Regions from separate parts of the Homo sapiens genome. Here all the other regions are linked to region 1. The links come from fine-mapping of genetic effects on gene expression. Tissue or cell type: whole blood. Region 1 holds a variant in brackets; each other region holds the start of a gene. All regions are shown on one strand. Distances are from middle to middle.

Evidence for each region. PIP is the estimated chance that this variant, and not a neighbour inherited with it, causes the effect.
Region 2: SYTL4 starts here. The variant in region 1 is fine-mapped to the expression of SYTL4 in whole blood (TOPMed, PIP above 0.99). The same link has a PIP of 0.9 or more in blood mononuclear cells, caudate, esophagus muscle, gastroesophageal junction, nucleus accumbens and putamen.
Region 3: TSPAN6 starts here. The variant in region 1 is fine-mapped to the expression of TSPAN6 in whole blood (TOPMed, PIP above 0.99). The same link has a PIP of 0.9 or more in T cells, blood mononuclear cells, esophagus muscle, gastroesophageal junction, lung and pituitary.

Annotation. Positions count from the first base shown.
Region 1 is chrX:100,672,977-100,675,688 of GRCh38, reverse strand. SRPX2 (sushi repeat containing protein X-linked 2) reads right to left here. Exons shown (of 11, transcript NM_014467.3): 11 at 1-2,712. It overlaps SYTL4 (synaptotagmin like 4), which reads left to right. Exons shown (of 20, transcript NM_001370165.1): 20 at 1-1,198. Among named protein-coding and RNA genes, the nearest start is that of SRPX2, 30 kb to the right of the region's middle. The variant C/G (reference allele first, on the strand shown) is at 1,154.
Region 2 is chrX:100,730,753-100,733,252 of GRCh38, reverse strand. SYTL4 (synaptotagmin like 4) reads left to right here and starts at 1,132. Exons shown (of 20, transcript NM_001370165.1): 1 at 1,132-1,249; 2 at 1,748-1,835.
Region 3 is chrX:100,635,293-100,637,792 of GRCh38, reverse strand. TSPAN6 (tetraspanin 6) reads left to right here and starts at 987. Exons shown (of 8, transcript NM_003270.4): 1 at 987-1,185; 2 at 2,047-2,235. The coding sequence starts at 1,099. RefSeq lists enhancers at 792-1,407, 1,408-2,023.

The sequences.
Region 1 (2,712 bases):
TCTGTCTTGCTATCATTGTTCCTACTTCCCTAGGAAGCCCTGGCTACCTTTCGCATTAGGACCAGTCTGGGTTTTAAGGCTCTGGGAAGCAGGGTTGGTTAGTAAAGACAGGAATGTTGGGGAGAGGTGAGTAGTTCCTTCCTCTTTCTCCTCTCCAATTTATGCTTTTAACTTATTTTCTACCTGGATAAACTTCTGGAACTTGGCTTTTAAATTTAACTTTTCTAGTTTTTAAGCAGTTTCCACCTTGCTTTGGTCTAATGCTTTTCTTTGAAATGCTAACAGAATTCCCAAGCTTTTTCCAGTTCTAGATATCTTTACTAGACCTTTGGGGGACTCTTATAATGGAGCTGCTTTTGAAAAGCACTTTAATTAGATAATGTATTTTGACTAAATCACGAGGATGCCCAGTGAGAGCTTCTAGCTGATCTCAGAGGACCAGAGTGACTGAGGGTAAAGTGTCTCACAGCCCATGCTGAATTTTCTGCATTTTAAACTGATACTGCAGTCATTGGAGAGAGAGCTCCTCATTTCTCGAATGAAAGATGAGATATATTCATCCTCATGTACCACATCTGTCTTAGTGTTTGCGTCTGGGGTGTGTTATCAAACAGAGCATGGTCTACATCCCACTGTGTCAACCAGAAGAGCCAAGTGTTATCTCAATTGGCCCAGTGTTTCTCCAGGCTGGGGACTGTTAAGGGCTCTAAGGGAATGTAGACAGAGTCTCCCTGTTATTCTGACTTCCTGCTTGATGAGCTTTCAGTTCCTGTTTTTGCTATTGTTTCCTAAATTTGACCTACATATTACATGGGTGTAGTGTGTTGAGGCTTTTCAAAGAAGGGTCTAGTGAGCTAAGTTTCATCTTCTGGTACTCATTGATCAAACTGACCTTTCTATTCTCATAAGCGTTTCTACCCAAAGTTGTGTGTGGAAGGAGTGTATAGCAGAGAGGAAATCCCTTTCAACAGAGTCAGCTGCTAACTGATTTCCTATAAGCACACTGGATTAAGGGCAGCCACAGTGGTTTCTACTGTATGTATGAACCGAATGGAGGAATGTTTTCAAAGATTGATTTGGTGTGGATTGCAATTGTAATGGAAGGCATAACTTGGGATCCCGGGCTGTAACTTGCTCTTTTGTTTCCCACCCC[C/G]CTGACATGTATGTGTGCTTTAATAAAGCTTTCTCACTTGTCAAACGTTTGTGTTTGTTAGTTCTATAAATGCTTTTGTCTCTGATGTCCTCACTGTTGCTTTTCCCCTGGCTTGAAGGATAAGAACCAAAGTGATAAATGCTCTTCCCTAACCATCCTATGCTGATTGAAGAAAATTCACCTTTCCCCGCATTGCTGCCTGATACCTTAAATGCCTGATACTTTCGCTGAGCTTGATCCCTCGTCCTTTGTATTTGGTATCTAAGGAGAACACTGAGAAATCATCTTTAAAGTGGCACCACTTTTCTATCTTGTAACAAAGGAACTCTTCCTTTAGCTTTGCAGACCCTCCTATACTGGAGGAAGGAGAGAGATGTTCATACAGGAGGTGAGGGGAGACATTCCCTGCTATAAGCACTTCTTTCTGGATCCTTCAATTTCTCTGGGAGGCGGGGACTTTTTCTTTTACTCCTCCTACCATTATGTAGTTTTGAGAGAGAAATAACACAGGTGCCAAGTAACCCAGCTCAGAAATAAGGCTCTTGATTTCTAGGTAGAACCCAAGCAATTCTTGACCTCTTGTGCAAAAGGGCATTAATATATATCAAATGCTTTTTATGTGCAAGGCTTCATATACTATTTCTTTAATTTCTCCAACCACTTTATGAAGTAGGAAATCTTCCCTTTTTACAGATGAGGAAACTCAAGCCTACTGTCACGTGACAGAGTTGGGCTTTGAATCAAAGTCTGACTCTACTGCACCATGTGGCCTCCTGTGAGAATGGTATGTGTGTTATGGGTGAAGGGTCAAAGGAAGACGTGACTCATCTCTTCTAAAATATCTTAAATAAGTTCAATTTACAAAAAGTAGGACAATCAGAATGCTTTGGATATTACCTAGCCAACTTAGTGACTGTACTGCTTGTGAGTGAGTGTGTGTGTATGTGAGAGAGAGAGAGACAGAGAAATAGGGGAGAGGAATAGGCAGGATAAGAGAGAATGGGGCAGTGGGGAGAAGTGGGGGAGAGGTGGGCAGAGAGAGAGGTACAATATATACAGGGGTCGGGCTAGCCCCTTTGGGTCTGGCTGTGGGTCATATTCTGCTGCTGTCTCTCCCCTACTTTAGGAGTTGGGATTTCTCAAATCCTCATCTTCAAAGGACTACAAAGGAGGTTACTGTAAAACTTTACCTAAAGAAAGCAAGACTGACTTGACTATTCAAAATGAAATGAAACAAAAGCTCCTCAGTTGCATATAAATGTTCCTTGAGTCAGGTCCAGGTGGAGCTCTGTTCAGGAGGTAGTAGGCCTCCGCTGTTTGGGCCTTTGACCTGCTAGTATGTCCTGGCTTGCCCCATTTGAAGTGTTAGTGATAAAGACAACGAAGGGCATTCATCTCGCCCAAGGTGCAGTCTTTGCCTTTGGAACCACAGAGCTAGTCTGACCAGAAATTTCCCACATGAACTCATTGTATCTGCCTCTGCCCATAACTTGCCTGCTGCCTCTCACAGTTCCCATATTTCCCTGGAGGGAAGAGGGAGAAGGGACCTTTTTGCTCCA
Region 2 (2,500 bases), 58 kb before region 1:
GGAAAAGCAAAAGAGTAAAATGTCATAGATGCCATAGAAAGTTTCAAGGACGAGGAAATGGTTAACGGTGTTAAATGTAGGGGAGAAGTCAAGCAAAATAAGGACCAAAAATACCTTACTTATTTATGGATTTATTGACACTGAGGGTCATTGTTTGTGTATCTCATTGAGAAGTTTCAGTGGGGGAAGGAAGCCAGACTGCTGAGAGCTAAGAAATGAATGAGAAGTAAGGGAATAAAAATTGCAATTTCACCTGTGAAGTACATTTTCAATACATTTGCCCATAAAGAGGACCTGAAGAGGGACCTCCTGTGTAGGGAGGTTCTTTTTTTAAGATGGTAGATACTTGAGCATGTTTAATTGCTGATGTGAAATGAGGGGGAGAGGGATGGGAGAGGCAGGGAGAGGAATCTGCAATTACTGGGTAGGTATAAACATTTTCAAGTCTATTGATACATATTGCTCACGTGCTTTCTAAAAGGGTTTTTAACCAACATATGCTGCTATCAGCAATTAAGACAGCTTGTTTGGTGGCTACTTTGTCATCATTAAGTGTTATTAAAAAATAAAAAATATCTTTGCCAAAGAATCTCATTATTGTTCTAATTTGCTTTTCTTTGATTACTAGTGAGTTGGATATTTTAACCAGTTGTGTCCTTGAGTGTGTATGTATGAATTTAGTCTACGCTTTTGCCCAAAACGTTTCTATTTTAGACAGACATTTATTTGCCATAAAAGGCCACAAGTCAAAGGATCAGAATGGTATTATATTTTATTTACTCAAATTAGATAGTTCATACTCTTTTATCTTCTTAGAAGTGTGAGACAATTTGACAACTTTTGACTCAGCTGAACGAAAGAGACAGGTGATTTCACCGTCTAAGAGAGTGACCAACAGATGGAAGTAAGTGGGTGAGGAGGCACGTCTAGTGTTAGACCCCTATCCTCAGTCCCCAGGCTCCCATTCCTAACCTGGAAGGACATTCCTCTTGTGTCTCAAGGCTTTGGGTCCCAGAGCTCCCTTTTGGGCTGAGTGGCCCCCTGCTAAGGAGCCCGGGGCGCTGTGCGGCCCCTTTAAGAGTCCAGCTCCTCCCCGCTCCAGGGAAAGTTGCAGCTTTTTCCGCCTCCCGGGAGGGTGAGAAGGGCCGGCTGCCGGAGCTGGGTTGCGATCTTCCCGGAGCCGGAGACCCTCCCTTGAAACCGGCACTGGGACTTCTCGATCTCTGGAGGCACCTGTTGCAAGTGACAGGTAGGTCAACAGCCAGCGGCCGGCCCCTCGCCCTCGGTCCGGTGCTCCTTCTGGACCCCCAGCTCCTTTTCGCTGCTGAAGCGCCCCCACCCCCATCTCGGGGTCGTGCGTCTTCCCTACCCGCTCTCTGGTCCCCCAATTTTTCCTTCTCCCTAGCTGACCGCGTCTCCCCTCTCCCCGTCCGCCTCTCCCGACCGCATCCCCAGGCTTGGACTCCCGTCTGCTTGGGCGGTCCCTCCCGGCCACTTTTCTTTCTCCAGGGCTTCTTCTGGCCCCTTCCCTGACCCACCCAGCACTAATGCGGTCTGTGCCCCTCTGGGAGCCGCCTCCCCTCTCCTCTTCGGCTCCCCTCGCGGGGAGTGCCCGGGCTTTTTCCCGCCAGCCCGAGCTGGTGCCCCTCCCGAGAGCTGGCCCTGGGGGCGGGGGCGGGGCCGAGCTCCTAGCGGGAACTGCGCCCTCCAAGGCGTCCAGTCACCTTTTCGTGGGTTCCTCTCACAGCGCTCGGCCGTCGAGCGGGGTCGCTAACCCGCACTCTCTTCGGACCTACGACATCGCGGCTTCTCTGGCGTTGGCCAGTCAGCCACAGGTAAAGGCTGGAGGCTGGTTGGCTGGAGTCCTGCCTCAGTGGGCTCCCTCTGCGCTTGGGGCTGGGGACCTGGCTGTGTGCTGTGGAGCTGCTTTATATTGCCGCTCTTCAAGCAGGCTGTGAGAGATCTGGTACTGGAGGAGGGTCCCCGAGATCTCAGAAGGGGCACAGAATGCTTCTGTCTCCTGTGTTGGTTTGTAATGGGGCAGAAAAAGGTGTTCCTCCAACCCTTAACATTGAATGAGGTGGGATTTGGGGTGGTGAAATCATTTGGTTAGAATTCTGGTGGCTTGAAAAGTGGTGACTTTCTAATCAAGCTTTTCTTCCCCCAGTACCCTGCTTCTTCAGGATTAGAGGACGTAAAATTCCAGAGTACTGTGCTTGGCAGGGTTGACCCTAGACCTTGTATATTTGTGGCAAAAATGAGTCTTCTGTACATCCTGGACCTCCTATATTTAACTGGCTTATTTTCTGCTCTTTAAGCTCCCCACCCCCACCTCTCATAAATCTATTAATATTGAGGTATTAATGACTTAAGACTTTTGTCGCTGTGGGAACAATGTTTAATGCAGAGACGTGGCCTTGATGAAGTTTTCTGCGTTTTTGGTTGTTTGGTTTTTAGCACCCTAGTAGAAAAGCACCACCAACTTGGCTTGTGAGGCCCT
Region 3 (2,500 bases), 38 kb after region 1:
AGTCTCTGCCTTCAAAGAGCTGACGCTTTAGTTGAGAAATCAGACCTTAACGCACCTCCTGTGTTGTAACAACATAGACCAATATATTCACAATATATAACATTAGGTTTTAATCTCTCTGTAATCAGCTGGGTTTTGATGGGAAAAACCAGGTGGCTGGAATGTACAGTGCCTTTCTGTTTTAACATTTAAGAGGAGGTCACACTCACCAGGGATTTTTCCATTGCACTCTCTCTTTTTAAAAGTTTACAGCGAATAGCTGAACTTACATTTCACTATTATGTAAAAATACTTTCCCTCAACTTTCCAATTACTTAGGGGATAAAAAAGGAGAGGAATACTGGGGTTTTGCAAAGTCCTGCAGGTAAATTCTAAAGTCATTATTATCTTTAATACCTAGCTTAGAAATTCTTTCAACAAGTGGTGATTATTTTCCTCCATTCACATCTCCCCTTCCTAACCCATAAAACAATGTTCACAAATTGAAAAGCACACAAGTGAGAAAAAAATCAGCCTAATTCCACCAGAGGTAAATTTCACTGTTCCTTTCAGTTTTTGTCTAAGCACACGTGACTGTATGTATTGCTTTGCAATCCGCTTTCTTTTTGCAAATATATTTCTTGTGGGTATTTTCCCATGTATTTTCTTAGGTCGCTTTTAACCTCTTCATTCTTTTCCTTCTCTCTAGGGCACCAGGGGCCAGGGAGGCCCAATCTCAGAGCGCTGCGGGCTCTGCTGGTGATAGAAACAATATGGTGAAGTTATAAGGAGAGGGGAGGGGTGGGGGGCGGGAAAGATTCCTTAGGATAGAAAAAAAACAATGAAGAAAGCTCCACTTGAAGACCTATGAAATTTCCGACACTAGAACCTTTGTATATAGTTTTCGGTAACCTTCGGCAGGGGGCGCTCTGAAATTGTTGCCACTTTCCGGACAGCCTCCCATACTTTACCCTCTACAAAATTGTACAGTGTTTCCGGCCCTTCTCAGTTGTGGACGCTCGTAAGTTTTCGGCAGTTTCCGGGGAGACTCGGGGACTCCGCGTCTCGCTCTCTGTGTTCCAATCGCCCGGTGCGGTGGTGCAGGGTCTCGGGCTAGTCATGGCGTCCCCGTCTCGGAGACTGCAGACTAAACCAGTCATTACTTGTTTCAAGAGCGTTCTGCTAATCTACACTTTTATTTTCTGGGTGAGAGACGAAGGCGCCTGGGGCCGGCAGGGGATCCCGGGCTTTTAGTTGTGGGGGGTGTGACCCTGAGCGGCGGGAGCTCAGGTCGGGAACGGTGTGGGGTTTGGGCGGCCATCGCGCCTGGGACCCCGACGCCGGCGACCAGTGACTGGGCCCCGAACAAAGAGCTCAGGCATCTCGCCGGCGCTGGGGTCGGAGTGCGGGACGAAGGCAGCCGAGAGGCTGAGCTGGGACCCAGACGTACCAGCGTTCGAGTTCGATACGGGAGGCGAGGTGGGGCCTTAAGCCCCCAGAGCACGCAGACGGTGACCCTGGACCTTTGCAAAGGCAAGCAAGGCTTGCCCGGCCCCTTTGAGGGCTCACTTGCATAATAGTGTCTTTCTTTTCACTGCTTCGTAAGAGAGGAGTGTTTCGCAGGTAAGTATGGTATGCCTCCACTCCCGCCAGTCTATCCTTGGGCTTGCTTTTGTGTACCAGTCCTTTGTACCCTGTGCCCATCCCTACCTGGAGAGGACGGGGGAAGTTTCTGGAACTCATAAAATCACGTTTTTTTTTTCCCCTTCAAGGTTTTCTTCCTAAGGTTGGAGTAAGATAGTTAAGGAAGTTTTGATCCCTAGGGCAAATATGCCATGGGCTTGTGTTTACACACAAAAAGATGAATTTTAAGAATTTTGATAAGATACCTGGTCCACAGCCTGCTCTTGTGTGCAGATCCCCCCCTAACCCCTTCTACTCTTCCCCCTTGTCTGCCGTATCCCAGCATATTACACCTATTGTGCCTTAAATACCTCATGCGTTGTGATTTGAAGATGCTGCTGTACACAGTGCGTAACTGTTTGTATTCTCTGAATTCCCACATAGATCACTGGCGTTATCCTTCTTGCAGTTGGCATTTGGGGCAAGGTGAGCCTGGAGAATTACTTTTCTCTTTTAAATGAGAAGGCCACCAATGTCCCCTTCGTGCTCATTGCTACTGGTACCGTCATTATTCTTTTGGGCACCTTTGGTTGTTTTGCTACCTGCCGAGCTTCTGCATGGATGCTAAAACTGGTGAGTCCTTGTTTTCATTAGAATTGATTCTTGGTTTTAGAAAAGTTTTGTATGTTATAGAATTCCTTTGTTGGAACTGGCCATGGCCCTTTACAATTTTTCCTGTTCCTTATGGAAACTTATCAAGTAACAGTTCAGCTGCCAGTTTCCACTTTCAAAATAGACATGTTGTTATTTTCCCTGCCCTTTTCAATGAAAACATGATGAACTAATTGAGAAGACGACCATTATTTTTTCTTTGACTCCCTTTGCAGTTGTGCTATAT